Linked DNA regions of Homo sapiens: regions 1 and 2 are each linked to region 3. The links come from fine-mapping of genetic effects on gene expression. A gene starts in region 3. Each other region holds a variant in brackets. All regions are shown on one strand. Distances are from middle to middle.

Evidence for each region.
Region 1: its variant is fine-mapped to the expression of SHC3 in fibroblasts (GTEx, PIP 0.94).
Region 2: its variant is fine-mapped to the expression of SHC3 in fibroblasts (GTEx, PIP 0.98).

The regions. Positions count from the first base shown.
Region 1 is chr9:89,148,753-89,159,344 of GRCh38, forward strand. All of the region lies in intron 1 of SHC3 (SHC adaptor protein 3), which reads right to left. Among named protein-coding and RNA genes, the nearest start is that of SHC3, 25 kb to the right of the region's middle. The variant G/A (reference allele first, on the strand shown) is at 6,092.
Region 2 is chr9:89,132,714-89,143,305 of GRCh38, forward strand. The region is part of intron 1 of SHC3 (SHC adaptor protein 3); the gene reads right to left. Among named protein-coding and RNA genes, the nearest start is that of SHC3, 41 kb to the right of the region's middle. The variant G/C (reference allele first, on the strand shown) is at 6,172.
Region 3 is chr9:89,173,808-89,184,399 of GRCh38, forward strand. It overlaps SHC3 (SHC adaptor protein 3), which reads right to left and starts at 5,011. Exons shown (of 12, transcript NM_016848.6): 1 at 4,180-5,011. The coding sequence starts at 4,653.

The sequences.
Region 1 (10,592 bases), 25 kb before region 3:
TGTGCCAAGCACTCACATAGAAGAAGAAAAAGTCACTGACTCCAAATTTCACTCTATCTTTTGTTCTTTAAAAAGCCTGAGACTACAGATTTATGAAAGGCATACGTCACTTTCCCTGGGCTGGCATATGACAAAGCCCTATAAAACTTGCATGTATTTCTGCGTTCTGCTTTTTAGTAAGAAAAGAATAGAAGTTGGAGTCATACAGCCCTCAGTTAAAGGCCCACTTCATGGAATGTTATGTGTGAACATTCAGCAAATTACTTGAGCTTGTGGAGTCTCTGTTTACTCGCCTGAAGAATGGAATATGGTGAGAATTACATGAGAGGGCATGGATTTTGGACAAGTGGCATCGCTGTGTGCATAATCAAAGCAAGTTAGACATGCTGCATTCTAAACAATGACTAGTCTCCACCGCACACTGGTGTGGTAAGGATTTTCAATTCGCTTTTCCTAAAATTTGCACCAATTTACACATCCACTCATAGTGCACTAGGGCTCCTTCTCCTCCCTCTGCCAGCTCTGCAGGATGTGACTACAAGGTGGCTTCTTTTCATTTTGTTACTTCTCTGAATATTATAATTTTTACAATGAACTTCATTGTAAAATAAAGCATTATAAAATGCTTCAGAAATTACATTTTATTTAAATTTTAATGTCCCATCCTTTTCACTTAATCTAGGGAAATAATCAAAAATGCATGAAGAAGAGGCATGATCAATCTCTCTGCACCCCTCTTCCTAAGACCTTTTCACACTAGGATCCTGTCGTCTAAAGTCTTTTTTCCTCCCCTCTTCATCTGGATAACTGCTACCTACCTTTAGATCCTAGAACTCTAATGAAGTCAAATTCCCACATACCTCTGGTTCATTTTATTTAATATAGCTGTACTTTTTACAAGTATTTTATATTGAGGTATAATTCACATGCCATAAATATTCACCTTTTAAGAGTGTACAATTCAGTGATTTTGAGTATACAGTAGATCCCCCTTATTTGTAGTTTCACTTTCTGTGGTTTCAGTTCCCCACAATCAACTGGGGTCCAAAAATATTAATGGAAAATTACAGAAATAAACAATTAATAAGTCTTCCGTTGCACACTCTTCTGATCAGCATGATGAAGCCCCAGTTGCTCCACCCGCAGTGTGAATCATCCCTTTGCCCAGCATCTCCAGGCTGCCTATACTACCCATCCCTTAGTCACTTAGTAACAATCCCAGTTATCAGGCTGACTGTCATGGTACTGCAGTGCTGGTGTTCAAGGAACCCTTATTTTACTGAATAATGGCCCTAAAGTGCAAGAGTAGTGATGCTGACTTGTCATCATAATTGTTCTGATGTATTATTAGTTATTGTCGTTAATCCCTTACTGTGAATAATTTATAAATTAAACTTTATCAAAGGTATGTATGTATAGGAAAAATCATAGCACGTATGGGGTTCAGTATTATCCATGATCACAGATACCCACTGGGGGTCTTGGAACATTGCCACCAGGGATAAGAGGAGATTATTGTATTCACAATGCTGTACAACCATCACCATTTAATTCTATAGTCTTTTTTCATAATCCCAAAAAAAAACCCATACCCCTTAACAACCACTCCCCATCCTCTCCCACACTCAGTCCCTGGTAATCACTAATCTACTTTCTGTCTCTATAGGTTTGCCAAATCTGTACAGTCCATGTAAATGGAATAGTACAATATGTGCCGTTTTGTGTCTGGCTCCTTTGCTTAGCATAATGTTTTCAAGATTCACCATGTTGTAGCATGGTCAGTACTTCACTCCTTTTTATGGCTGAATACTATTCCGTTGTATGTATATACCACCTTCTGTTCATCTATTCAGCAATTGATGGGCATTTGGGTTGTTTCTATTTGGGGGCTATTGTAAATAAAGCTGCTATGAACATTTGTGTACAAGTTTTTGTGTAAATATACATTGTCAGTTCTCTTGGGTATATACCTGTGAGTGGAATTGCTGGGTCTTATGGTAATTCTGTATTTAACTTGAGGAGCTGCCAAAATGTTTTCCAAAGCAGCTGTACTATATTATGTTCCCACCAGCTGTGTATTTTAAGCTGGGTTTTGATTTCTCAATTCCACCAATAATTGTTATTGTCCATTTTTTTAATTATAGCTTTTTTTGTTATACCCTAAAGGGTATAAAGTGGCATTTCATTATGGTTTTGATTCACATTTCCCTAATGAGTAAAGATGTTGAGCATCTTTTCATGTGATTATTGGCCATCTGCATGTCTTTTTTTTTTTTTCTTTTTTGATACATGGTCTTATTCTGTTTCCCAGGCTGGAGTGCAGTGCTGTGGTCACTGCTCACTGCAGCCTCAACCTCTTGGGACCAAGTAATCCTCCCACCTCAGCCTCCTGAGTATCTGGGACTACAGGCATGTGACACGGTGCCTGGCTATTTTTTAAAATGTTTTGTAGACATGAGGTCTCACTATGTTGCCCAGGCTGGTGTATGTCTTTTCTGAAGAAATGTCTATTCAAATCCTCATAAGGTCTGAATGTTAGTGTCCCCCCAAAATTCATACATTGAGACCTGCTGCTGAATGTGATAATATAAAGAGGTTGGGCCTTTTGGTAACTGATAAAGTCATGAGGGCTCTGTCCTCATTAATGGGATTAGTGGCCTCATAAAAGAGGTTGAAGGGAGCACTTGTCCCTTCTGCCATGTGTGAATGACATGAGAAGGAGCCATTCATGAAGCAGAAAGCCCTCATTAGACATTGAATTTGCTGGTGTTTTGATCTTGGACTTCAGGCCTCTGTTGTTTGTAAATTACCCAGTTTAAGGTATTTTTGTTATAGCAGCAGGAACAGACTAAGACAAATTTGGGGCTGTTTTTAAATTCTGTTATTTTTCTTTTTATTGTTGAGTTGTAAGTATTCTTTACATATTCCAGGATAGAATATTATGCAGCTATTAAAAATTATGTCTGCCAATAATATTTAACAATTTGGGGAATCATTGAGCCTGATCTCACATTTGCATAAATAAAAATAAGGGCTAAAATAATTCATGGACATTTTAAGACATCATCATGGAGGATTATGATTATAGGTGATTTTAATTTTCTTCTTTATGTTTTTCTTTATGTCCTTCTTTTTCTGCAATTAGCATGTATTGCCCTAATAAAAGAAAGCTAAATATTATTAACTAAAAGTATTCAGATTCAGTACTAAAAGTATTCAGATTCAGTAAGGTTGTGCCCAGACTTCTGGATTTGCAATAATGTTTGATGATTCTCTTTCTAGGATTATATTGTTAGCGGAGCCAGCCCCTAGTGATTTGAGTAGCTTCAGATTATGTCAGGGGAAGTGGCCATATGTTACATATTGCTCTCTGGAAAATTAGAGTTAAAGATATGGGATGTAAACTAACACTGCAATCAAGCTCCTAAGTCTTAACTCTGACTTAGTGAATTGTCACTTGTTAAAAACGGGAGAATCCACAGTCCTGTGAATTGGGCATCTCTTTAAGCCGAATCCTATGGGTTGTTCTTCCTCTCCCAGTGGTGGCCAGTTGGCCTGGGCATAGATCAATTACCATGCACTGTAAAAAATAGAGGTCAAATGAAATCAATTTACAGGACCATTTGAAATTCAAGCAAAATTCTGCTCCAGAATATTTACGTTTTCAAAATCCTTCAGAATTGCTCAAGTTAGTTGTGGCTTGGCAGTCTTAGTGGGTCCACCATAGACATCCTCAATATCTATGTCCAACTGTCTTAGCAAGTCCACCACACATGTTCTAGATGCCTGTGTGCAATCGCACCTTCTCACAATTCTTTAAAGTCAACCACTGCCCACTCTCCAGCTTATATAACATGGCACATCCGTCTGATATTGGCATTGGAATAATGTGAAGTTCCAAAATGACTTGATTCAGTAATGTTAAAATTAAGATGATTTATTACAAGCATTTATATGTATTTGAGCAAAGGGAAACTCTACTTTTCATAAATTAATTTGTCTAATGTACTTTATACAGGATTCTGCACCATCAAAGTTATATATTTATGAACTCTCTTCTAAATAATACCTTGAATTGATTTAAAAGATACAATCCATACTTAGAAAAAATGGGCTATACTTAATAGTGCTAATTTGACCAAATATTATTAGTATTGTTTAATTTAAAAGATAATTGCCGTAAACTAATCAATGGTGACAGAAGTCAGAAGAGTGGATACCCCTGGGAGGTATCAAATACAAAAGAACTCAGGGGGTGGGACTGGAAATTTGCTTTAGATCTTAGTCTGTTGATGTTTGCACTGGTGTGATGTGTGTATAAATATGTGCTCGTTGAGCTGATTATTTAAGGTTTTGTGGTTTACTATGTATGTTGTGCTCAGTAAAAAAGAATTAAAAAATCATTTATTTTAAGGGGTCCTTGAAATTATTTTCTTTCTAACACTCACCTTTTCCTAGTAAATAATGTATGTTCATTGCAGAAAATTTTGGAAAATACAAACAAGCATCAAAAAGTTAAAATCATTCATAGGCAATCCCCCCAGAATAACTTGGTATTATGAGAATGTTGTCTGATGCCCTACTTATAAGGCAGCGGCCGCTGGGAGCTTTTTATGAACATCGCCTACTTCAGCACTAACACCACAAACATCACCTACCCCAACATCCATGCTGCTCTCACTCACAGCGTTTCATCCACGCTGCTCTCACTCAGAGCATTTCAAAACTCCTCCCTGGTTATCACTTTGTCCTTTGCCTTTTGTGATTGGCTCATGCTGTTACTGCTGTGGCCCCAAAAGTGATTTCCCAAAGCTGTAAAGCTGAGAACCCTCATTTGGGCCAGGGAGGCCCCTCAGTCACTCCAGCTTTCACCCCAGCAAGTCTCAACCTCCTGTCCACCTCAAGGGTGGCAAGAACGGTGCCACGACATCACCTTCAGCAGAACAAATTTCACTTGAGCTAAAAGGCTGAGCTGACACACGGCTGGAGTCACTATCATGTGATATCACAGTACTCTCTCTTGAATAAAGGAAATATGACTAAAGGCGAGGTTGGCCCTGACTCATGGGGCTTTGGAGAAGTGAGCTCTGGGTTTAACAGTAGGACTGGGGATGGCTCAGACTGCGGACCTTCAGTGAGCCTCTGCCACCTGCCAGGCACTCCGCAGAGCCTTTCACAGACATTCCCTTCGTTCCTCCTGACGACCTTATAAACAGAGTGCTGCCGTTACACCCATTTTACAGATAAAGAACTTGAGGTGCAGGTGCACCTCCATATGACAGGCATCATCCAAGAGAAGTGGAGGGCTTAAACAAGCTAGTCCAACCCTTGGCCATGGGCTATATGTGGCCCAGGATGGCTTGGAATAGTGGTTACCCCTGGGAGGTTACTAACTGGTTGGAAGCCGTTCTGTTTCTTAAAACATTATGAGATTTTTTTGTGTGTGATTTTTCTTTTTTTTTTTAGCTCATCAGCTATCATTAGTGTTAATGTATTTTATGTGTGGTCCAAGACAATTTTTCTTCTTCCAATGTGGCCCAGGGAAGCCAAAACACTGGACACCCCGATTTAGAGTTAAGTAAAGTTGTCCATGTGTCCACAGAGTCCCAGTACCCGCTGTTAAGGGTGAAGCCAACTCTGAGCCGGAATGCATGTCAGTGCAGCCCAGCACACAGGCCCTGTGAGGAGGGGATGCCCCACGGTGTTTTGGGCATGGAAAGAGGGTTGGGTGTGAAAAGTGGTGCCCACCCACTTTCAGTTTTCCAACCTCCTTTTCCAGGCTTTTCTCAGTTTCCATACATTACATCAGGCAAGAAATTAGCTATTCCCCTAATCATGTATCTGTTTCCTCAGCTACTAAGACAACTCTCATTTAAATCTCTCCTCTCACAGAGAAAATTATATTAATATAAATGCCATATAGGTGTTCATCAAAAGACCTAGAACGCCTTTGTAAATGTGAGCTGGTGGCGTGTGTCATCAATCTTACGTACGACAAGGAAGCTGAGTCAGAGAGAGGAAGTATGACTGGGGTTTGGTTAAAAGTAAACCACTGTGCTTGATTTCATCTGAAAATCACAGCAATGCAATA[G/A]ACCACATCTGCTATCCAAAGTCAAAGGAAAAGAGCAAAGGAATGTTCCAAAAATACATATTGGTATTATGGCTAAAGCCACGTTCTAGCTAGTGGGTGAGGCAGATAAAACTAAGCAGCCATCTTCATTCCAGTGTACTTCCACTTCTATTCTCATTTTCACTCTGCCACTAAGCTGGCTGCTCAGTCTTAGAAAATTCGTTATCTACCCTTGAGCATTGCTTTTCTTCACGACACCCCACAAAAAAGACTGCTGGTCAGGATGACCCTGTGTGGCCTGCTGACCCCCTCTCTGTGCAGCTGAAGCCGGTGCCACCAGCCAGGTTCTCAGTGCTGTTTCTGGTTCGACGGAGCCAGCCTTCTCTCAGCCTTGGGCCCCAGACTCAATACAAGCCTCCATTTCACTGGACTGGACCATTTCTGAATGCTTGGCTTGCATTCTACCCGATGCCACACGCCCTTAATTCCCGGAGCCGGCTTCTCTCTCCTTGCTCTTACGGAACAACCACTCAGCCATCTCCAGTCTGGTGTGAATGACCAAGAAGAAGTTCAGTTGTCTCTGAAGCCTGGGCAAGAATGATGGTCTTGGGGGTCTCAGCTCCCTAGTCCATTGCTTCTCCATCCTTACAGGATGTGCGAGTGTCACCCAGACCTCACAGGACTGCTTCCAGCTCCATTCCATATGGAATGTCAGTAAGGTCCTGCTACCACCAGCCAATATGCTAGACTTGTTCTGGAGTGCCACTGAGCCCAAAAAGCCACCCTAAGTAGCCCATTGGAGAAGAAATACCAGCTGCCGACTCTGGCCTCAGCTCAGCCCCTGAACATGGAGTTGGCAAATCGTCATCTACCTGTTTCTCCACCTGGTCACATTCACAAGGACTTTCCTTGCCTTGGGTTTTTCCCTCCTAAATCCCTGATTGTCAACCCAGCTCTGGTTAACTGACTTGGCACCTGAGGGTTCATCTGTTAAAACTGTCTCTAACACAAGAAATTCATGCCACCCCATCTACCTCTTTGCAGAAGAAAATTGTCCCTATTAAGCTTTTAAATTCCATCTTTTATCATCAATGGGACTGATTCTTACTGTCAACCAGGGTATTTTTGTGGTTTCTTCCAGCCTAAAACCCATGAATCTATACCCATAGCAAAAATATTTATGTTTCTGAGGCCTCCTGGCATTTGTGCCCTTATAGAGTGCCCTCCCCCATTGAATGGGGCTGACCCATGTGACCAATAAAATACTGTGAAGGTGACAGTGTGTGCTTCCCAAGGCTAGGTCATAAAATCTATTACTGCCTTGATTGCTGCATACTCTGGGGGAAGCCATCCACAATGTCATATGGACACTCAAGAATCCCTATGGGAAAAATATGGAGCGGGCCATGTGGAAAGGAACTGAGCCCTCCTGCATATAGCCAGATACCACCTGCCAGTCATAGGAGTTCACCATCCTGAAGTGGACCCTCCAGCCCCAGTCAAACCTTCGGACGATTACAGTCCCAGTTGACATCTAATAACTTCAGGGAAGACCCTGAACTGAAACTGAACTGAAACATCATAGATATGATTAAGTTAAGGATCCTTAAAACAGAGCAGGAACCCCTCTTAGGAGCCTGTGGGCCCCCAAAGACATAATTTTTTTAATCTTCGGTGCATTCAAAAAACTTCCAGTCACTTAACTAGTCCTAAAAAAGTAAATAAAAACTTAATAAACCACAACAACAAAAAAAAACTTAATAGCCAAACAAACTAAAGTCACAAGATGTTTGGTTCCCTGTAAAAACCAAAGACAACATCTTAAAATATGTCCCTGAGTTGTTTTCCAGAAACCTAGACCCCACCAAATGGAGCCACTGGCACACAGATCTCAGGTAAGGAGAGGCTGAGGACTCAACTCTGATTGCTATTCTTTGTTCTAAATTTCTTCCTGAGGGGCCTGGAGAAGGTCATGCCTATGAACCAGAGCTCACCTTCTTTTCTGCCGATCACACATTCTTAGACAAAGCTTTGACTCCTTAATCAATCACAAATCAGAAAATCCTGGAATCCACCTATGACCTGTGGGCCTCTGCTTGGAGATGTCCTGTCTTTTTAAGTCAAACCAATGTATAGCCTCCCTGTGTTGATTTATGACCTTGCCTATAACTTATGCCTCCCTGCCTCCATAAACCCTTACGTTTAAGCCATCTGGGAGGTCGGGTGTCAAGCGTAAGCAACCCAATTCTCCTTACTTGGCACCCTACAAGTAAGGGTTACACTTAAATACCCTCCCGCTAACACCCTCCTTTCTCCCACTACAAACCTCAATAAATATTTGGCCCTACTGCACTGGGTGAGTGGACCCCAGTTCAGTTCAGTAACATCCTGAGATAGAAAGATCATTCTGGATTATCGGGTGGCCCATACATATAACCACAGGGTCGTTATAAGAGATAAGCAAAGGAAAATCTGACCACAGGTGAGAAAAAGACAAAGTGATAATGGAAGCAGAGATTAATGTGGCCACAGGCCAAAGCGTTCTCACAGCTAGAAGCCTTAGAAGCTTCCAGAGACAAGATGCAGACTCTCCCCGGAAGCCTCCAGAACAAATGAGCCCTGCAGATACCCTGACTGTGGTCCTGTAAGTCTCAGGGCAGACTTCCGACCTCCAGAATTGTAAGATAAATTTCTGTTGTTTTAAGTCACTAAATTTGTGGTCATTTGTTAGATTGGCAACAAGAAACTAATATATTGCCAAAATGTTTTTTTAATTTTTGTCAATCTTCCTAAGTTTAACAATTTTTTTTTTATTCAGGATCTCTCTCTGTTGCCCAGGATAGAGTGCAGTGGTGCAATCATAGCTCACTGCAACCCCCAACTCCCAAGTTCAAGTGCTCCTCCTGCCTCAGCCTCCTGAGTACCTGGGACTACAGGCATCCTGCCACCACGCCAGGCTAATTTAAAAAAAATTTTTTTTGCAGAAATAGGATCTGGCTATGTTGCCCAGGCTGGCTTCAAACTCTGAGCCTCAAGTGACCCTCCCACCTTCGCCTACCAAAGTGCATAGGATATGTATAGGTGTGAGCCACCATGCCCAGGCTGGTGTATCAATTTTATCAATTTTTTTCAAAAAATCTGATTGTGCGTTCATTGATTTTTTCAATTGATTTCCTATATTTAATTTTATTGATTTCTGCTTTTATCTTTGTTATTGCCTTCCTTCTGCTTGCTTTAACCCTTTTTTTTAGTTTCTTGAGGTAGACAGCTGGATTACTGATTGAAGAACTTTTCTGTTTTCTAAGGTAAGCATTTGGTGCTATAAATTTTCCTCTTTGCACTGTTGCTATGTCCCATATATTTTGACATGTTGTGGCTTCATTTTCATTCAATTCTATGTATTTTTTGTATTTCCTTTGAAGCTTCTCCTTTGTCTCATTAAGTATTTGCAGCCATGTTGTTTAATTTCAAAGTTTGGAGATTTTCTTATTGTTTTTCTATTATCAATTATTAATTTAGTTCCATTTTAAATTGAATTTCATTGTGATCAGAGACCATGCTCTGTATGACTTTAATTCTTTTAAATTTGGTTAGATTTGTTTTATGACCTAAAACATGGTATATCTTGGTGAATGTTTCATGAACACTTGAAAAGAATGTTTACTCTGCTGTGATTTTGTGGAAGGCTCTATGTATGTCCGTTAGATCCTGTTGGTTGATTATTTTGTTCAGCTTTTGTCCATCCTTGCGATTTTCTGTCTAGTAGTTCCATCAATGGCTAGTGGTATCAATTACTAGATTATTCTGTCTAGCGGGCTGTTGAAGTCTCCAACTATAATTGTGGATATATACATGCTTTCTTGTGATTGCTTCTGTTACAAGGATGGGTTCATACACATGCTTTGTTTCACCACGCTGTTTTCACTCAACAATTCCTTGTAAAAATCTTTTCAAATCAACTGTAATAGGACTCTAGTTCACTTTTAGAAATGGCTACATAGTACTATTCCATAGTGTAAATGTACCAGAATTTACCCTACCACTCTGTAGTGTGACATTTGCTTTGTTGGGTGGGCAAAATAATCCTCAGTGAAAATTCCACCGGCTTTCTCAATTACAAGCCTGAATTTTGATGACAGAGGCTGATAGTTGGAAACTCATAGTAGTCAAGTGGACCATAGCATATAGTAGGGGGTAGAAGTGTGCAGGGTAGACATGAGTCTGTATTAGGCCTTTTGAGAAAAGAATGTGTGACTTTGAAAACCATCAATAATTCTGCTTGTAGGTCATAATAAGCCATAAAGAAAGCTCTACCATCTTTTCTTTAAAAAAGAGTAGTGATATCTTAGACAAAGATTAAATTATCTCTTAGTCATGTAGGCACATGAACTAAAGACCAAATTATTCTTAGGATAGGACAAAACTCTACAGATAGAATATAGGCCAAATGTGGCCAACACAGTAACTCAACCTCATTCCTTACTATGAGCAGGGTGTCTTAAATTTAATTTACAAACCAGAA
Region 2 (10,592 bases), 41 kb before region 3:
AAGCTGAAACTGGATCCTTCCTTACACCTTATACAAAAATTAATTCAAGATGGATTAAATACTTAAATGTTAGACCTAAAACCATAAAAACCCTAGAAGAAAACCTAAGCAATACCATTCAGGACATAGGCATGGGCAAGGACTTCATGTCTAAAACACCAAAAGCAATGGCAACAAAAGCCAAAATAGACAAATGGGATCTAATTAAACTAAAGAGCTTTTGCACAGCAAAAGAAACTACCATCAGAGTGAACAGGCAACCTACAGACTGGGAGAAAATTTTTACAATCTACCCATCTGACAAAGGGCTAATATCCAGAATCTACAAAGAACTTAGACAAATTTACAAGAAAAAAATCAAACAACCCCATCAAAAAGTGGGCAAAGGACATGAACAGACACTTCTCAGAAGAAGACATTTATGCAGTCAACAGACACATGAAAAAATGCTCATCATCACTGGCCATCAGAGAAATGCAAATCAAAACCGCAATGAGATAACATCTCACACCAGTTAGAATGGCGATCATTAAAAAGTCAGGAAACAACAGGTGCTAGAGAGGATGTGGAGAAACAGGAACACTTTTACAGTGTTGGTGGGACTTTAAACTAGTTCAACCATTGTGGAAGACACTGTGGCGATTCCTCAAGGATCTAGAACTAGAAATACCATTTGACCCAGTGATTCCATTACTAGGTATATACCCAAAGGATTATAAATCATGCTGCTATAAAGACATATGCACACGTATGTTCACTGTGGCACTATTCACAATAGCAAAGACTTGGAACCAAACCAAATGTCCACCAAGGATAGACTGGATTAAGAAAAGGTGGCACATATACATCATGGAATACTATGCAGCCATAAAAAAGGATGAGTTCATGTCCTTTGTAGGGACATGGATGAAGCTGGAAACCATCATTCTGAGCAAACTATCGCAAGGACAGAAAACCAAATACTGCATGTTCTCACTCATAGGTGGAAATTGAACAATGAGAACACTTGGACACAGGGTAGGGAACATCACACACTGGGGCCTGTCATGGGGTGGGGGGAGCTGGGAGGGACAGCATTAGGAGATAAACCTAATGTAAATGATGAGTTAATGGGTGCAGCACACCAACATGGCACATGTATACATATGTAACAAACCTGCATGTTATGCACATGTACCCTAGAACTTAAAGTATAATAAAAAAATTGTTCAGAATATCTACTTTGAAGCATTAGATTCTAGATGAGGCCTGGGGACATGTGAAGTGCCATGCCCCTTAGCCATGCTGGAAAGAGTCAGCTCTTACAGCACTTCTGTCTGGTGTCCTAGGCTCCACACCTGGCACATAATTATAATCACTTATGAACCAGGTTTTTCACCAAAAGTAAAAGTTGCTAAAAGTTAACAGTGCAATATGTGTTTGAGACTACTAAAGAAACAGTTCTACAATATGCAAGGAGTGTAAGGAAAGTAGAATATACTTTTGGTAAAAGATTATAAGAAGGCCTGGGAATGTGGATTTCTTGCCTGTGTTTAAAGGGTAAAAGGATTCTTTTAAAGTGAGATAGAAAAATATTAAAGGTTTGAACAAGTTGTGGAAAGTTTATTAAAAAATTAATTGTTAAAAAGATTCTTTGTGTGAACATATTATCTAGAGTTAAAGGGGGTATTATTCAGTTTTTCTGAATAATAGTTGAACACTAAAATAAAAGCACAACAGGATTTTCTCAGAGCACTGATCTGCTCTTTACTGAAAATTGTTAAGGGATTATAAAGGGTTTATAAGAATCTTGCCTTACAGTTGAACTGATTAAGATTGAATAGATTTGTCTAATAATTATAGTTGTTATGTTAAATTATTGTGTGCCATAGATGTAACCAAAATTTCCTTGTCAATTGTGACTTTAATAGTGGCTGTCCTAAGACTCTTTGCCATCCACAGACAATTGTTTTCTTGTTTTGATCCTCTTCAAAAGGTGGTTTATAATCAGCTATAGAATTTGACAGGTACTAACGAATGCAGGTTTCTGATAACTTTGGAGATTGTAACATTAGAATAGAGGAAAAATCTTTAAGGGCTCTCATGGAGAGCTGAAATGTTTATTAATATCAAGCAGAACAGAAATTAACTGCATGGGCTGAACTAATAGAAGACTGAAGTAATCTTTCTGACTTTTGCTTAAAATGTAGCTGATCTTTTGTTTTGTTTTCCAGAGTTAAGGAAACTTTTCTTTTGAGGTATTTACAGCCTTTAGCAATTGAGTAAAGTATACTCCTGTAAACAAAATTCAGAGCATATTTGTTTCTCTTTATGTGATTTCTCCAGAATTTAGAAATTATTTTTGAGTAATCTTAATTTATGGCAATATAAATATTTGCATAAGTACAACAATCATGTTTTCTTTTGTAACAGGAAACAATTAGAGAAACTGGTTATTTTACCAAGGCTTTGACTCAAACGGTGTGCTTTCCTCTACGAAATCAAACTTGACTTGTAGAGCCAACAAAAGCCCCTTGGGAAAACTGGCCTCATACCTTTTCTACAGCAGTCCCTGTGCAGGGTTCCTGACCTGTGGTAAGTAAAGAATGTCACTTTCTGACAGGCTGAGAAGCCCCAAGTTTTCTTCAGACCTCAAAAGAAGAAGCATTTATTTAACTCAGGTATTTGAGGGTACAAACCCATGGCTGGGTTTGGCTTTAAAAAAAAGTCTTATCTAAGATTCCTTTTATAGAAAAGGAATTCCATCAAAGCCAATTTAAAAAGCATATTTAAAAAAAATTATTTTTGATGCACCTTATACAAATAATCTGGTCAAGTATAAGACTAAGGCTTATTTTTGCAAACAAATCAGTCTGTTATGATTTGTCTTGAGTAAAAGTGGGATAATAGAGAGAGAGAAAAAATTATGTTTCAAGTACTATGGTACACCTGTTATAAAATTCTGGTTTCATCAGTTGTTTTTGAGGGTTTTTTTTCTGCGATTTAGACTGACTCTGTTTATTCCTGTGAATCAATCAGTGATCTCTGGCTGCAGCTCAGAAGAATTGAGATGGATGAGTAATGTAGAAACAATCTGGATCAATATTCTAATTCTCAGCATATACTGGAATCAGCTAGCAACCCCATATCAGCTTGGTTTCAACAATTTTCCAGTTCATAGAAAGCCTTCTTATTTAGTTTACTTGGCATAATTTTGCTTATTTTGCTTTACTGTTGTGGAATATATTGCTGTCGTACTCCTTGTGTAGGAATGCAGGATAAGCTTACGCAATATTCTCTTAAATTGAACACTTATTAATCTTCCAGATATCACATTTTGTCAGAGCTCAAGAGTCATGAATGACCCTCACCAAACTGATGCTTTCTGACTGAGCTCCTCTCTACCCTGAGGAGCCCCAGTAGTTAGGCAGGAATATCATTACCCCTATTCAGCCTGAAGAAATTACAAAAGATGGATCTTTGTCCCTCTTCAACCCTTAGGATTAAGGGTTCTCTTAGAAAAAGGAGAGGAGAAACATGTCAGAGGCATTTGAACCAGATCAACTTCATCTTGAATAGGGGCTGGAAAAAATGAGGCTGAGACCTACTGGGCTGTATTCCCAGGAAGTTAAGGCATTCTAAGTCACAGGGTATGATAGGAGGTCAGCACAAAATACAGGTCATAAAGACCTTGCTGATAAAACAGCTTATAGCAGAGAAGCTGGCTAAAACCCACCAAAACAGAGATGGCGATGAGAGTGACTTCTGATCCTCCTCACTGCTACATTCCCACCAGCACCATGACAGTTTACAAATGCCAGGAAATGTCAGGAAGTTACCCTATATAAAAAGGGAAGGAATGCTCAGTTCCTGGAATTGTCCACCCCTTTCCCAGAAAGCTCATGAATAATCTATGCCTTGTTTAGCATATTATCAATAAATAACCATAGAAATGGGCAACCAGCAGCCGTTGGCGCTGCTCTGCCTACGGAGTAGCCATTCTTTTATTCTTTCACTTTCTTAATAAACTTACTTTCATTTTACTCTATGGATTTGCCTCGAATTCTTTCTTGTGCGAGATCCAAGAATACTCTCTTGGGGTCTGGATTGGGACCACTTTCAGGTAACAATATGGCTGGAGTGTATTAGACCATTCTGCACTGCTATAAAGAACTACCTGAGGCTGGGTGATTTATGAAGAAAGAAGGTTTAATTGACTCACAGTTTCACGGGTTGTACAGGAAGCATAGTTGGGGAGGCCTCAGGAAACTTATAATCATGGTAGAAGGGTACAGGGGAAGCAGGCACATCTTACATGCTTGGAGCAGGATGGAGAGAGAGTGAAGGGGGAGGTGGATATACCTTTAAACAACCAGATCTTGTGAGAACATACTCACTATCATGAGAACAGCAAAGGGAAAATCCACCTCCAGGATCCAATCACCTTGCACCCGGTCCCTCCCCCAAAATCGGGATTACAATTCAACATGAAATTTAGTGGGGGGACACAAAGCTAAACCATGTCATGGAGATACCATTGTTTTTCCACTTTAGTCCAGATTCTCAGGAGCATCTTTATACACATGGCTAAGGGCTCAGCAACAGTTCACACTTAGCTAAAAATGGCTTAAGTTTCAGTGTGTTTTATTTCTCAAACTCAAGATTACTTTGAGGATCTCAACACATTATGGTTTTTGGCACCTCCAGTTAACTGCAATAAGCCTTAGATACACAACTTCCAATTAGGACATCCAAAAAATCCCAAATCTTAAGAAATTGATGGTACAATTGTGGCAGACAGACTTTGTGAAAACTCAAGTTCATGATAAAAAAATTCCAATCAAGTTTCTGAAACTTTTTTATTGGGAAACAGGAATATTAGCAAACTGCACTATTATTAAAAATAATAACTCAAGGGCACAGAATAAAATTAGCTTTCTGAATGAGAAATATTAAAAGCAAAAACGTCTAGGGGTGGAGACAGAGTTCCTGTAACAGAAATGAGAATGTCAGTGATAGAATAAACTGAGCTAGCTTGCTAAAGAATTCAAAGAAATAATGAGAGTGTGTAGGCAAGAAATCAGAGTCATCAGAAGAGCTGCAACTTACAAAGACCCCAAAAGCAAACTCAATTCATCAGGAGCAAGAGGAAAATAAATGAAACACGTTGCTCCTTCAATCCATAAGAAAAGAACGATAACAGCCCATAGTACAAAGACAAAGCCATTATTTTGTAACAGAGTCTTCACAAAGACTTTCCTCTGCAACTATGAGTCTGTGCAGGCTGCAAACGCACTGAAAGGGCAGGAAGCCAAACCAGAGTTGGGAAAGATTAGTCATAGATGTCACCCTTTGTAGACTCTGATGCTTCTCGCCTTGCCCTGGGAAGCCGTGAGCTGCCAGCTACAGAGACTTGGGGGACAAAGAACATGCATCTGAGGGCAAGGGTGACAGCAGATCTGTCCTACTGGTGGAGAGAGCTCCCAATCCAGACCCTAAGAGAGGGTTCTTGAATCTGCACAAGAAAGAATTTGAGGCAAGTCCATAGAACTACGTGAAAGCAAATTTATTAAGAAAGTAAAGGAATAAGAGAATGGCTACTCCATAGGCAGACCAGGCCCAAGGGCTGCTGGTTGCCCATTTTTATAGCTATTTCTCAATTATATGCTAAATAAGGGGTGGTTTATTCATGCCTCCCCTTTTAAGACCATATAGGGTAACTTCCTGACATTGCCATGGCATTCGTGAACTGTCATGGAGCTGGTGGGAGTGTAATAGTGAGGACAACCAGAGGTCACTCTCATTGCCATCTTGGTTTTGGTGGGATTTAACCAGCTTCTTGACTGCAATCTGTTTTATCAGCAAGGTCTTTATGACCTGTGTCTTGTGCCAAACTCCTGTCTCATCCTGTGACTTAGAATGCCTAACCGTCTGGGAATCCAGCCTAGCAGGTTTCAGCCTCATTTTATCCAGCCCCTATTCAAGATGGAGTTGCTCTGGTTCAAATGTCTCTGACATTTCCCCTCTCCCTTTTCTAAGAGAACCCTTAATCCTAAGGGTTGCGGAGGGATAAAGATCCATCTTCTGTAACTTCTTCAGGATGATTAGAGGTGATGATATTCCTGCCTATTAGGGTCTCTTATATTAGGCATAGAAAGGAGCTCTGTCAGGAGGCATCAGTATAGTAAGGGT[G/C]ATTCATGACTCTTGAGTTCTGAGAAAAGGTGGTATCTGGAAGATTAATAAGTATTCAATTTAAGAAAACATTGAGTAAGCTTATCCTGCATTCCTACACGAAGAGTACAACAGTAATACATTCCACAGCAGTAAAGCAAAATAAGTACAATTATTTCAAGTAAACTAAACTAGAAGTCTTTCCATGAATTGGGAAACTGTTGGAACCAGGCTGATATGGGATTGTTAGCTGATTCTAATGCACCCAGAATTAGAATATTGATTTTATCCAGATGTTTTTTACATTACCCATCCCTCTTATTTCTTCTGAGCAGCAGTCAGAGATTGCTGGTTGGTTCACAGGAATGAGCCAGATCAGCCTAAGTTGAAGAAAAAACTCAAAAACAACCAATGAGACTAGAATCTAATAACAAGTGTACCATAGTTCTTGAAACATAATCTTTCTCTATCCAGTTTACCATTGTTACTAAGGACAAATCATGGTAAGACTGTTTTGCTTTATTACACTTGGCCTGATTATTTGTATAAAGTGCAGTAAGAATAATTATTTTTCACATAAGCTGTTTTTAAATTGGCTTTTGTGAAACTCTGTTCCATAGAAGGAATCTCAGATAAGACTTTTATAAAGCTGAGCCCTGCCATAGGTTTGTACCCTCAAATACCTATGAGTTGTGTCAATTCCTTTCCTTTTGAAATCCCAAGATAACTTGGGGCTCCTGGGCCTAAGATAAGTGCCATTCTTTACTTATCACACAGGTCAGGAATTCTGTACAGAGACTGCTGTAGACTAGGCATGAGGCCAGTTTCTTCAAGGGGCTTTTATTAGCTTTACAAATCAAGTTTGATTCCTTAAAGGAAAGAACACCATTACAGTCAAAGCGTTGGTAAAATTACCAGTTTCTCCAATTCTGTCCTATTGCAAAAGGGCTGATAAAGGCTGACTCTTGAGCCTAGCTAGGGAGCATGGCTCTCCATATGTCCCTAGGCCTTATTTAGAATCTAATGCTCTAAAGTAGGTAAATTGAACAATTTTCAAAACTTAAAGAAACAGTTTATTACCTTAAAGCATTTAGCAAGCCTAATATCTGACCTGAGTAATTTAGACCAAATGTTTAAATTTTGAAGACATTTTAATTTTACCAATAATTTTTAAAACTGTCATTTCTTGAAGAGTACTAAAGTCACATGAACTAAAAGCCATTAGACTTTTTACTTTTCTGACAAAATGCTTGATTTAAGCAGTCATTGTTTTTAAACCAATGAAAGCTTCTTTTTTATATCACAAACACACAACACACATAAATACATGACAGAAGAAGACCCAGTAGTTGTAAGATTTTTCATTTACCAGTTTCTTAATTGGATTACTGGCTTCAGGGTGGAGCCCAGAGCCAGGAAAGCATGCATTTTCTAGGGCTAATAAGCAGGGACAGCTGGAAGGCAAACAGATTCCCCCCCCCAGATTAAGGGTCCTGCTTTTATACCAGATCTTGGATCCCAAAAAGAAGGAATCAGCCCCTCCCCATGGAAGTCTTATCTCTCAGTGGCGGTGGTGGTGGGTGGGGGGGCGCATCTCCATACTTCCTAGGTGGCCAAGAGCATGTGTTTCTTATCCAAGCATGCACAGCTGAGTATTTCCCAATAACTGCCATTAGCCATCTCCAAAAGTATATTTCCTACCTAGTTATTACACACCAAATTCTCTCATAATGCAAAACAATTTCTGATACCTGCAAAAGTCAAAAACATCAGATACGGCAATGCAAAACAGAACAAAGCCTTAGATTTTGAGAGGAAACTAACTGCTTTTAATTCCTGGGGTTTCATGAGGAAAAAAAAGAGAATTTTCCCAAAACAGGGTCCGTGGCACTTCCTCTGTTTTTCTCCAGGAGTTCTAGGCTGTTAGTAATTATCTCAGGTTCTCTTATGTCGGCATTAACAGTGGCAAAAAGACAAAATGAAGAAAAACAGTTCAGTCGACTGAGGAGAAAAACTTTTTTCAGAAAGAACAAGATTCAAGAAGGGGAAAAAGATAAAGCCCTTTTAAATATATATAGTTTAGATATCCATATTTTAAATTAATTAAGCTGATTTTTAACCATAGCGCTCTTTTAAAAAGTCATGGTAAATTTCTTATTACCAGACTTTAGCCAGGCCAAACAGCCAATATTTCTGGCTCAGTGAAAGGAAAATACAGGACAGTTTTTGGAGGAGAAGAGAATAACAAATGGTAATGGTCATGCAGATATCAAACAAGAAAGAACTCATTCCCTAAGCAGGGAATTGACCCTGAAGTTGGGATGCCATTGTAATGGCAGAGACCAAGAGAAAGTACTGCCACGTATTTACAAGGTCAAGCTCCCAAGGACATAACTGACCAGTTTGCTGGGCTGTCTTGAACAGCGAGCTTGTGGAGTCCCAGGGCTGTGTTCTATCCTACGGTACCCTTCTTTATGACAGAACAATACAGAAAGACACACAAATCATGCCAGATTCACCACAGCTTAAGAGTAGCCTCACAAATCTTTTTTCCATTAATCAAAACTTTATGAAGGAGATAAACAGTGATTTTTACCATTCATTCAACTGGTTTGCACAGAGAGAGAGGCCAGAAGTCTGACTGGTAAGAAATTTTTACCCTTTTGCCAGCATGCCAGGCTTCTGGGTTCCCTTTCCCTAGTGAACAGCCCTAGTGACCTGTGGGCTGCACCACAGCCCTGGGGGCCAAGCCACATTATAAAGGAAAATTGTCTTTTTCTGTTCTGGCCGGAGAAAAATACATGTGACAAAGCAGACACTAGCTGCCCTGCTTAGCACCCAATGTCAAACTACTATGGCTCAAACTTGCTCCTGATTGGGCCCTGTCATCATTAATCCAACCTCTGACCAGCAGTTTCAACTTGCGGTCACAGGGCAAGATGATCACCCTGAATAATAAAAAATATAGGAAAGGAAAAAGAGAGAGAGAAATGCGTTGTCTGCAGCAGGGTGGGGGAGGCGAAGAGGTCAGGGAGGCCAGAGAAAGACCCATCTATTGCAGCAACACTGAAAAGTTCAGGTGGCCATTTGTCGGTCATAGGAGGGATCTTTTCCAGCAGTTCCATCAGCTCTCATGTTTCCCCTTTAGGGAGAAAAAAGCTCCCCATGTCCCTTCATCCTGTACATGCCTAATTCTGTCGCCCACAGCCATCAGCAAAGAATGTAAGGCAGATTAATTAAAAAAGAATAGGAATTAACATCCCATGGTGCCAAATCCATTCTTAGCCCAGAAGGACTTTACTAAATGGCTCCTCCAACCCCCTAAATCTTAGGAATGACTCTAACCTTCTTAAGTTGGGCCTTGAACCCAAGTTCAGTCGAGTTTCCTTGCCTTTTATTAAGAGGGGCCTTTAAGGCTGGGTGCGATGGCTTGCACTTGTAATAACAGCACTTTGGGAGGCCAAGGCAGGTGGATCACTTGAGGTCCAGGAGTTCAAAACCAGCCTGGCCAACATGGTGAAACCCCATCTCTATTAAAGATACAAAAATTAGCCAGGTGTGGTGGTGGGTGCCTGTAATCCCACAAGGCAGGTGGATCACTTGAGGTCCAGAAGTTCAAAACCAGCCTGGCCAACATGGTGAAATCCCATCTCTATTAAAAATACACAAATTAGCCAGGTGTGGTGGTGGGTGCCTGTAATCCCAGCTACTCAGGGCTGAGGCAGGAGAATCACTTGAACCCAGGAGGAGGAGGTTGCAGTGAGATCGCACGACTGCACTCCAGCCTGGGCGACAGAGTGAGACTCTGTCAAAAAAAAAAAAAAAAAAGGCGGGGGGTGTCTTTTACCCACTCTGTCTTAGGAGAGATTCTAACTCCCCTAAGTTGGCCTCTAACCCAATCCCATCCTTTACTCACATATATGCACACCACTTGCCCAAAGTCAGCCAATTGGTGTGTGTACAGATAATTTTCCTTCGGGTCGAGGGTCTCCTCAGTATCATACCTTTGGAGTTCACCAGAAAGATGTTACCGGACCCCACCACTTACCCCAAATTAGCCTTTGGGTTGGGGGCTTCCTCAGTATTGTCCCTTCCATGGTCACCAGAAAGATGTTACCAGAAATGGGTCCTGATCCAGACTCAAGAGAGGGATATTGGATCTCGGATCTCGCACAAGAAAGAATTTGAGGTGAGTCCATAGGCAAAAGTGAAAGCAAGTTTGTTAAGAAAGTAAAGTAATAAGAGAATGGCTACTCCGTAGACAGAGCAGCCCCAAAGGGTGCTGGTTGCCCATTTTTATGGTTATTTCTTGATGATATGCTAAACAAGGGGTGGATTATTAATGCCTCCCCTGTTTAGACCACATAAGGTAACTCCCTGATGTTGCCATGGCATTTGTAAACTGTCATGGCACTGGTGGGAGTGTAGCAGTGAGGACGACC
Region 3 (10,592 bases):
AACTCACTATCCAGATCAAATTAATAACTTTATATATTAATGTCAAAAGAAATTCTTAAACTATTTTTCAAACCATTTAGATATTTACGTGTAAGCCATCCATATCATAAGATTTCGAAAGAATTTTGAGAAAAAAATCAACTTTTTAAAGTTCAACTCCACATCAAAATCAATTTTTCAGTCTAGAGGTAAAATAAAATTCTACAATATTATAGTAGAATTGATATAGTTATTTTAATATAGTTAAAATAACTTTTGTATGATCTTTGCTCACAGTTACCAAAAGAATACAGCTCTGAGAAAATGAAAATTTAAGATATTTTTATACACTTTGTCAAGTGAAAAAAATTAAGAATAAATTTTTGAGTAAATGTAATTTACGAAGACCACCTATAAAAGGCAGTAGAGCATTTACAAATAAAGCAAATGATTTATACCACCCCAAATATCATTAGATGCACAAATGGGAGTAATAAAATAATTTTTAAAGAGTCCTTGTAAAAACAGAGCTTTGTTCCAAAAGGGAAGCATATCAGGAAGGGTCCAGTGTATCAGGAAATAATGCAGTACTTTTCTGATCGTTAAATCTCCTATAAATAGCTCGCCATTTTCACTGTCAGTAAATATACAACACTCCACAAGCTGAAACCTATGTAACTTCGCTGGAGCCTTCACAGGTGTTTATGAATGGCGTAATCTGCTGGCTCACTGAATGCTGACGCTGTTGGAATAGCTCTGAGCAGTGGGCACCTAAAACCATTGCTTTTACATTGGGCCTCCTGATTCTTGCCCTTGGCACTTGGGTCATTTCTAAATATGGTCACTTCTTATCCTTTTGAAGTCTGTGCTGTGATGTGCTCTAAGAAGGAGCCCGTCTTTTGGGGACCACGCTGGGGCCAAAGGCAAACCCGGTGCAGCCCACACAGCATTGCTTCCTGCTCCAGCCTCGCCCCTCCAGCAGGCAGTTTCAGAGCTGAATGTCAAGGCTGTGCTTGTCTTCAGATGGCCCACTGGCTCTTTAAAAACTGAACCCCTGCCTCCTGTCCCCTGCACTGTTCATATTCCTTCCTACAGTTTCCCCACCGTGGATCTGAGGACAGAGAAGGTGGAGGACCAGGATATTGCCTTTTGAACCTGCTAAAGACCAGCAGCCTCCTTGAGTGATTGGGGTCCTACCCAGGCTTGACTTTAGGATAAGATAATTTAAAGGTGGGCAGCACCGTAATCAATACTCATTGGTATTTCTTTTAGGTCCAAATATCAAATACTTTTAAAATGGAAATTTAATGAAAATAGTCATTGTTCTTTGCTGTTGGATTTTTCTTTTCTATCAAGAGCATAGTTCCTTGTTCTTTCTTTTACGTCACCAAAAGAAAAAAGGAAATGTCAAGATACTTAGGGGAGTAAAAAGGTGCTGCCAATGAGGCCCAGCTGAAAAGAATATAAACCTCTAGGCAGAGTAAGCTGCAGCCTTTCTGTGTGCATAGCCCCATTCTGTTATTTAGCAGCAAACTCAATGATGGACCAATTAGACATGCTTTGAGCTTTGAATTCTACTGTTGCTCAGGAACTTCTTCCATGTTTAAATTTTAAGTCCTTCATTAATTCACATTCTAAGCTGTTGCTCAAATAGTTTAATGTTTCCTAGATGATCAAAATTCACCAGACTTCTGTATTTTACAGTCCCTGTTCTCAGATTAAGTTGAAATATTTTTGAATTATAATTCATATGTGCAATATCCTAATATCACCTGTAAGTAGGTATTTCTTTGAGGGGGAAAATCTATAATACAGTATATAAATTTTCCAGGAAACTAGAAAACATTTGGGGGCTTTATTTTTAATTTAGAAAAAAATTATATCAAAGAGAATAATGCATCCTTTCCCAAACCCTAAACCTTTATATTTTACTATTGGTATCTAGTCATATGATAAAGATGGCCCATTTCTATCTACCAGAAATCTTTTAAAGTAAGGATACCGGTAGAACTATTCAAAAATTCTAAATAACGCCAAATTAAGATTGTTTTCAGTTTAACAATTTTTCAATAAAATAAGTTCGAGGTTTTAAACTCAACATGGGCAATGCGGGAATTTGCACATGTGCGCCAACAGAGGGCCATGTGATAATTTGAATCAAACATGCACACACACTTTAGCATCTGGTTTTCTTTCTGCGTGATTTCAAACTTCTCCAGGACAGCAGAGGACAATGCCTGCGTTTATGTTCACATCACAGCACCATTCATGGCTGCTAATGAACAAGGAACCAAAACATGGATGGTACAGAGCCCTAATTAGTCATGCCATGCACCCCTCAACCCATCACTGCAACCCCTTAAATTTGAGGCAACACAAAGTAACCCCAAGACACAGACAAGCTCTGTGCAGATCCAGCCCTTTGACTATGAATACTACTGCTGATGCTGCCAGTAAGTCACAAACCTTACAGCAACAGATTGTCGACGCAGAGCCGTCTTATTTTCGTACATTCATCATTATTTTGCCACATTTGACCTTTCAAACTTGATGCTGGCCTTCCTTCTTTAAAAAGCAAAAGCAAAGTTCTAAGCAAAGTGATTAAAACAAAAATTTAAAGCCATAAGTTTGAGAATTCTCCCTCAATTTGAAAACTACTCTGTTTAATATGACAGGTAGAAAAAGCTTTGCCAAGGTCTATTTGTCTATTTGAAATGTAGGCTTTTTAAAACAGCAATTATGCTAACACCCCAGAAGTAAACACAACCTCAAAGCTGTCAGGGATTTTTGGTTTGGTTTGTTTTTTTCTTTTTGTTTTGGCCCCTGGTTATATAATTTAAATAAGCAAAACAAGAAGAATATTCAGTACCTCTTAAAATAAACTCAACCAAATATGCATATATTATGCTCATCTATACCCCTTTGGTAAAATATAATAATCCATAGTTTGAAGGTTAAATTAAAAAGCAGACTGAAAAGGTGAAGAAGCCCTCTTTTAACAACAATGGCCACATTCATCTGTAAGTACTTTTTATATAGTTAAAGGCAATCCACAAAGTTAAGTATTTCTGTTAATATTTTGGTTCCGAAATTACCAGACACTGCATTTTACCTGAGGATGTGTTCTATTTAATTTTTACACTGGAATCTGCAGCCAATATTTACGGAACAGACATCCTGGGGGTTTCTCAGTGTTATTGAGGACACGGTGGGGATAGAGTTTGTGTCTCATTTCTTTCTCAATACAAAGCCATGCCTTGGAGTGGCAGGATTGAAATACTGCAACTTCCATCCTTAACCCCTGTCTGCTCGGCTGTGGAGGCTGTTAAAGCTCTGAGCTGCCCAACCGGCAGAAGGAAATAACCGCGTGGCAGATTACTTGAACTGTGCTGAGCATTTTTCCTTAAATATCATAACATGCTTGCATAAGGGTGGAATTTTATTGACTACATCGTGATTTTATCATCTTTGTGTTGGAGGAAAAAACTCCTTTCCAGCCTGTGGCTCCAAGCGCAGCGCCCTAGTTCCCTTTTAGCACATTTAAATGGAAGACTACAGTCACCAGAAAAATAGTCCCAGAATTCTCATTCCGCTGCTGTAAACCAGAACCTTTCCTTAGGGAATGAAAGACAAACCCCAAGAAAACCTGGACTGGGTGAGAAAGTAAAGCCCGTCGAAGAGAAAGCAGCACAGCATTTGGCCTGCTCTGCAAGGAGCTGGGAATTCTTGCTGCGGGGGGCAACAAGATACCCACCCTCCCGCCGGGGAAGACACAGCAGGAGTAGGGCCGCCACTCCGTGCATCTCTCCTCCCGGGGGCTGCCCAGCTCTCCCCAGCGCGTTTCCTAGATACTAGGCAGGCCGGACCCCCGCTGCCCAGGGTTGGGCGCCCATGACACTGGTCAGACATCTGGTAAGCCAGGTGGCAAAGGCGTGCCAAAAAAGTGGAGCCTAGGGAAAACCGGGACGGAGCGGGCCACCCGAGTGGTAAACCTTTTCCCAATGGATGCGGGAAAAGCGCATTTGTAGTTCCCTCCTCACCGCTGTCAAGCGAGCTGATTGCTAAGGAGTGCGCATTTGCTTGCCTCTAACGTGACAGTCGCGGGAGCGCCCCGCACCCCGGGCTTCAGGGAATGAAGGAGTCTGCCCCGAACTGGCCCCAGAACCCCCAGCCCCCAGGGCGGCCCGCGCCCGCACCCACCTTGACCACGTAGGTGACTCCGGGCCCCAGCACCTGGTCGCTGGCGTGCGGCGCCCCCCGAGGGGGCCTGGGCAGCGGCTCGTCGCCGGGCCGGCCCTTCCTGGCGGCGCTCATGGCCGGGGCGCGGGGCGCCGAGGGCGCACTGCCGTCCGGGGCGGCCAGGCTGGGCGCGCTGCAGCTGCCCGAGAGCCGCGCGCCCGCCCGCTCCCGGGCGGCCGACGACAGGCCGCGGAGGCCCGAGCTGGAGAGTTTCAGGTGGGACACCTTGTGGAGCAGGTGGCCCAGGCTGCCGGGCCCATCGTCGGGCGCCTTGCGCAGCGCCTCGCCGGACACCAAGTAGGGAGCCGCCGCCGGGGTCGCGCGCGCCGCCGAAACCTTGCCTCCGCCGCCGCTCACCGACAGGCTGTGGAGAAGGTCATCGACCGATGTCACCGAGTCATTCCTGAAGCGGTTATACTTGGTGCGTGGAAGCATGCCCCTCCGTGGGCTCGCTGCATCCGCCCGGGCGCTGCTGGTGCCGGCCCCGGCGCGGGCTGCCGCGCATAGCAGGCGAGCCACTGTCCCCGGAGCGGGACGGAGAGTGGGGGCCCCGGGACAGCCTTCTGGAGAACGAGAGCAGAGCAAGAGGATGGTGCCCTCCCACCGTTAAAAGCCAGCACAGCGGCGGCCGCGCAGCCCCGGCCCGGGAGACCGCTGCTTGGGGTTGCACGTTTGCTTTGCAAAAGTCATAGTTGCCTCTGATGGAGCGCCCAGCTGCTTGGGGCTGCTCACAGCAAAAGCATGACTCACTCTGAGAGGAGACCCTTCTCAACAAAGGCTCGGTGAGCACTGCAAATCACTTCCTGTAGCAGAAGAAAAAAAAGGAAAAAAAGAAGAAAAAAACGACATCCACCCGCTGACAGCACACTATAGCCAATCAATTCTCAAATTTCCTTTTTCTACCTTCCCAGATATTTCCTTCCAACCTTTGATTTTTCACCTTCCCATCCCCCGCAATCTGCATTTGTGCCAAAGGTAAATCCAATCCAGTTCCTTCAAATCGTCAAATGAACTTTCTGAAACCCATTATTCTGTTAGGTTTTGCTCGTCCCTGCTCAGCCCATCTGTGTGAGCCTGTAAAAGTGTCTAACAGCGATGCGTTAAAATGTGACGAAGGCTTTTTAAGAATCAGATCTTCAGCGAATCCTGATGAATCTTGACTTGGAAGGCAGCAGGAATTTTTAAATAGAAAAAAACAAAAAGGATATTCACCCCCAGGTGACTGTAAAATACCAATTTCCTGGGTTTTGCTTTTTCTTTTCAAATTAACAGAGCAGCGATGACAAGTGTCTTTGTGGCAATGCAGTTCCTCAAAAAAAAAAAAAAAAAAAAATCTGCATATGAACTTCTGCACAGTGCCAATCAAGGGGTCTTCCCTGCTCATTTACAGCAGTCTTTCTCAGCCAGGGTTAAGTTGAATATCCACTTCCAAAAAAGAAGAGTGCTTCTTTCACGAGTGGCAACAGGCTCCAGAAATCCATTCCAAAAAAGGGGCTGCATTTGAAGCTTTAATCCTACTGAATGTGTTTAAGCTCTGGAAAAACGCCTAAGAAATGCTACAAATACATTTCAATGTTCCTTCAGTTGCTGCTTGCAACCCTGCAGTCAGGAAGGAAAAAATGCAGCTGTTCTTATTGCACATCAAATCCACAAGGAGGAAAATATGCCTTCTTTTCAGGAGTCAGGCTCGGGCTTGCAAGTAAAATGCACAGGCCTTCTTCCTCTCAGTTAGGAGAGCAAGGCTTTCGCTGTCCCCAGAGGTCTGCCCGAGACTGAAGCCCTCTGACTCTTGACCTCAGTGGGCTCTGCCAGGCTTCCTCATGCATTAGGATCACCTGCTCCACAGTGAAACACTCACTATCAAAGTTTTCCCGCAACTTCTGAGCAAGCGAATAAATTCAGCTCTAGCACACTCTCAGGTCACCCTGAGTCCTCTCACTCCCATGACCGAACATGTGGGGCACGTGAGGTCCTGAGTCTTGAACCCTGCTCTATGGAGCAGAGTTTAATGAGCGCCACTCATGGCGGGCGAGCGGGTGAGGCCAACCCCTAGGACGCAAGAGCGCAGAGGAGCCGCGGCGTCCCCGGTACAGGAAACGCGTCCCCACGGCTCGCCTCCTGTGCCGCAGCCCTAGCAGAACAGCTACACGGCACTCATTTGTTCCCTTTCCCTAGCTTGCATAGCAACAGCAATTGCACACCCCATAGATGATTTTGATGGTTATCAGAGTCCTCCCCAGATCTGTAGCGAAACAGCCCTATCATTCCCAAAGCGAGATCTTCATTAGATGCAGACAAAAACCGCAAAATGTGAATGAAATGCTGTTTGTGTGAATGAAAAGGCTAGCGAGCGAGCCAGCGTTTCTGTGAATGAAGCAGGGCCTTGCAGCCGGTGCCAGGCAATCCCCTGGGCTCCAGCGGCCTCAGCCAATGAGCGGCCGCCCCGATGACTCATTCAACAAAGGCTTGCTCAATAGTGGAAGATTCCATTTCAATCAAAGGCGGGATCTTTTATCCAACGGCAGTGTGGGAAAAAAAAAAAGAAAAAGAAAAAAAAACACCCAGCCGGATTACAAAGATACCGGGAGGAAGAGGCCAGCTGCTATGGAGAGGAAAAGCTAGTTTTACAAGGGAATTCAAGATCCCTTGGTCAGGTCTAAGTGTGAAGAGGGTCTCTCTTGGAGGTGAGCTGTGCCCCTAAACTTTCATTCAGCCGTTCATTTACATCAAGGAGCAACCATGAATGTGCCAGTCGTTCAGCTTTTATTATGAATGTACATTGAATGCACGTTCAAAACCTAGGTTCCTAGCCCTTGATTCTTTTTTTGTAAAAGGCATGTAGGACACCTGTACACGTTCTGAGGCTCCAGGGAGGAAAAAAAATCCAAAGCTATGTACTTAACGTTTAGCCAACAGGAGACTTTTATTTCTTTTATTATGAGGCCAGTGGAGGGAAATTGGTCATTTTAAAATATAAATAGCAACATAAATTTACTATATATGAAAAGATATATAATCAAAGACAGAAATTAATATTCCAAGAACACAGTAGTACGGTAAAACCTCACTTACCTGGAAAATAGTATCAACATTTTGGAACGTAGCAGAAAGATGGAAAAAGAAAAACCCGAAGGCCTCTCAGCATCAAAAGGAGGCTGTGCAGCCCACACAGAAGCTCACACACCCTACTCATGAGAAAACCCTTTGCCCTTTCTGGGGAGCTGTTCATGTTTATTTTAGACCCTGTACCAGAAAGCCCACATATCTTCTTGATCAACATAGAGACAGATGAGAGAGGAGACCACTGGGACAGAAAATGCTAAATGTAAATGAAATTTTCTGTTGCTGGCTTGCTTGATAGCCATGGAAGGAAGCAGGAAAAAAAAACTCCATTTTAAAGTCAGCCTTGAGATTCACCAAAGCCAGGCAGTCTGGGGCAATTTACAATGAGAGCCTTTCCAGTATGTTGTGGTTTTTCTTTTTTAAATCAATGCTTAAACACGTATTTGCTTTCTATGGCTGCCGTAACAAATGACCACAAAATCAATGGCTTAGAATAACACAATTTATTATCTTCCAGTTTGTAGGTAAGAAGTCCAAATGGGTCATGCTGGGATCCAGCATGGGTGTGGGCCGAGCTGGTTCCTCTGGAGGCTCTGAGGGAGAATCCACAAATTTCTGAGAAGGTGCCATGAGCTGGGCCCTGGGGAAAGTGGTTTTGCCTTCTGGAAGGCAGAAGATCTGAAATTAATGTTATAACCTAGTTAAGACTATGTGAATTTTGTAATATGTGTGAGATACAAAAACTTGACCAAAGGAGTGAGCTTGTCCTGAGGATGCGGAGGTGACCCCTGACCCCAGTGGAGGCATCCTCCAGGTGACTTCACAGGAGGAAACTGTGTGGGCAAGGGCTCCAGGCCTGAGCAGTCCAGAGTCTCCCAGAATCCCTGGTAGGTTGGTTGGGTTGGTGAGGAGGTCAGGAGGCTGGGCACTCATAAAGGCTTAGAGGGGTGATGAGGTTTGGATGTGTGTCCCCTCCAAATCTCATGTTGAAATGTGACCCTCAGTGTTGGAGGTGGGGCCTGGTGGGAGGTGACTGAATCATGGGGGTGGATCCCTCATGAATAGCTTAGCACCATTCCCTTGGTGATAAGTGAGTTCTTGCTCTGAGCTTACATGAGATTTGCTTGGATAAAAGAATATGGCGGCCTGGTGTGGTGGCTCATGCCTGTAATCCCAGCACTTTGGGAGGCCGAGGTGATGGATCACCTGAGGTCGGGAGTTCGAGACCAGCCTGGCCAACAGGTGAAACCCCATCTCTACTAAAAATACCAAAACTAGCCGGGCATGGTGGCAGGCCCCTGTAATCACAGCTACTCGGGGGGCTGAGGCAGGAGAATCGCTTGAACCCGGGACGAGGAGTTTGCAGTGAGCCGAGATCGCACCATCGCATTCCAGACTGGGCGAAAAGAGCAAGACTTTGTCTCAAAAACAATAAAAATAAAATAAAATAAAATAAAATAAAATAAAATAAAATAAAATAAAATAAAATAAAATAAAATAAAATAAATGTGGCGCCTCCCCTCTCACTCTCTTTATTGCTTCTGCTCATGCCATGTGACACTCCTGCTCCGCCTTCACCTCCTGCCACAATTAAGGCCCTCACCAGAAGCCAAGCAGATGCCAACACCATACTTCCTGTACAGTCTGCAGAACCATGAGCCAATTAAACCTCTTTTCTTTATAAATTACCCTCTGGCATTCCTTCTTAGCAATGCAAGAACAAATGGACACAAGGGGCTTGAGAGAGGGTCACATAGTCAGGTTTGCCTTTTATGGAGACCACTTTGATAGTGACTTGGGGTGGCTCTGGGAAGTTGAGAGGAGGTAGGAGACAACAGGACAAGTTAAAAAGAACAAGGGCTTGAATGAAAGCAAGAGCAGTGGAGCTGGAAAGAGAGGGATGGATTCAAGATAGCTGGGAAGGTAAAGGATCTGTCTCTGTGATGAGGAAGTGTAAGAGAGAGCGAGGCTGGGTAGGCTGTCTGCAGCTAGAAGCTAAGACAGAGTTTGGAATGCAAGATGCTTATTAGAGATCAAGCTCCACAGAAAGCAGGGGAGGCTGCAGGAGGGAGCAGAGGCAGAAGTGGGCTGTGACCCAGGCCCCACACACCTCGTCCTTCCAAGAGTTCTGGAGAAAGAGTGCCATCCACAGAGAGTATCCCCTGGCCTGCAGGGCTCCTCATTCACTCTCACGCACTCCCTCACTCTCTCCCACATTCACCTCTTTAGTGTGGGCTGCCCAGGGAGGAACAGCCTCCAGCAGGTGGCACCCCACAGCTGAGCACCCCCAGAAAAAGTTGATGTGAAGGCTGTGTGCCCATGGCACCCTGCAGCCCAGCCTCTCCCAAAGAAAGGAATGCCAAGCAAAGCCCACGTTTCTAACTTGGACCATTGGGTTGAGCTGAATGTTAGCCATGAGGATGAGGAGCATCCCCATGACAGGCAGGTCATGGGGAAAGGCAAGGGCTGGGCTTGAATGTGTGTGAGGGGTGGGGATCTTCCATGTAGAGATGGCCAGAGCCGAAGAGCAGTCAGGGCTGGAAGTGGAAACTTGCAAATGCCAGACTTCCCAGATGGGAGCTAAGAAAAAAAAACGGTCATAATTTGGAGAATAAATATGGAAACCTGGTTTGATGAATGTCATGGAGGAGAGTTTCAAGAGAAAAACCAGTGATAGTTAACAAATGTAATGATGACAGTCATAACCACCTTGACTGAGTGTCCCTAGGCACCAATGCATGCCTGCTATAGAGAGATATAGATAGATGGTTTACAGCCTGTTTTGAATGAAAAGAAACCAAGAATCAGAGGAGTTACAAAATGTGCCAGAGCCACACTGGGTGAGTGATATGGTTTGGATTTGTGTCCCTGCCCAAATCTCAGGTTGAATTGTAATCCCCAGTGTTGGAGGTGGGGCCTAATGGGAGGTGACTGGATCATGGGGGCAGTTTCTAATGGTTTAGCTGTCCCCCAGTGCTGTCTCATAATAGGATTCTCACAAGATTTGCTTGTTTAAAAGTATGCAGCACCTCCCCCTTTGCTCTCTCTTCATCCTGCCCCTACCATGTAGATGTGCCTGCTTCCCCTTCACCTTCCGCCATAATTGTAAGTTTTCTGAGGCCTCGCCAGCCATGCTTCCCATACAGCCTGCAGAACTGTCAGCCAATTAAACCTTTTTTCTTTATAAATTACCCAGTTTCAGGCATTTCTTTATGGCAGTGTGAGAATGGACTAATACAGTGAGGAACTGACAGAATAGTCTTACTCCAAAGCCACGTTCATGACCCAGCATCACCCCTATTCAGACAGCT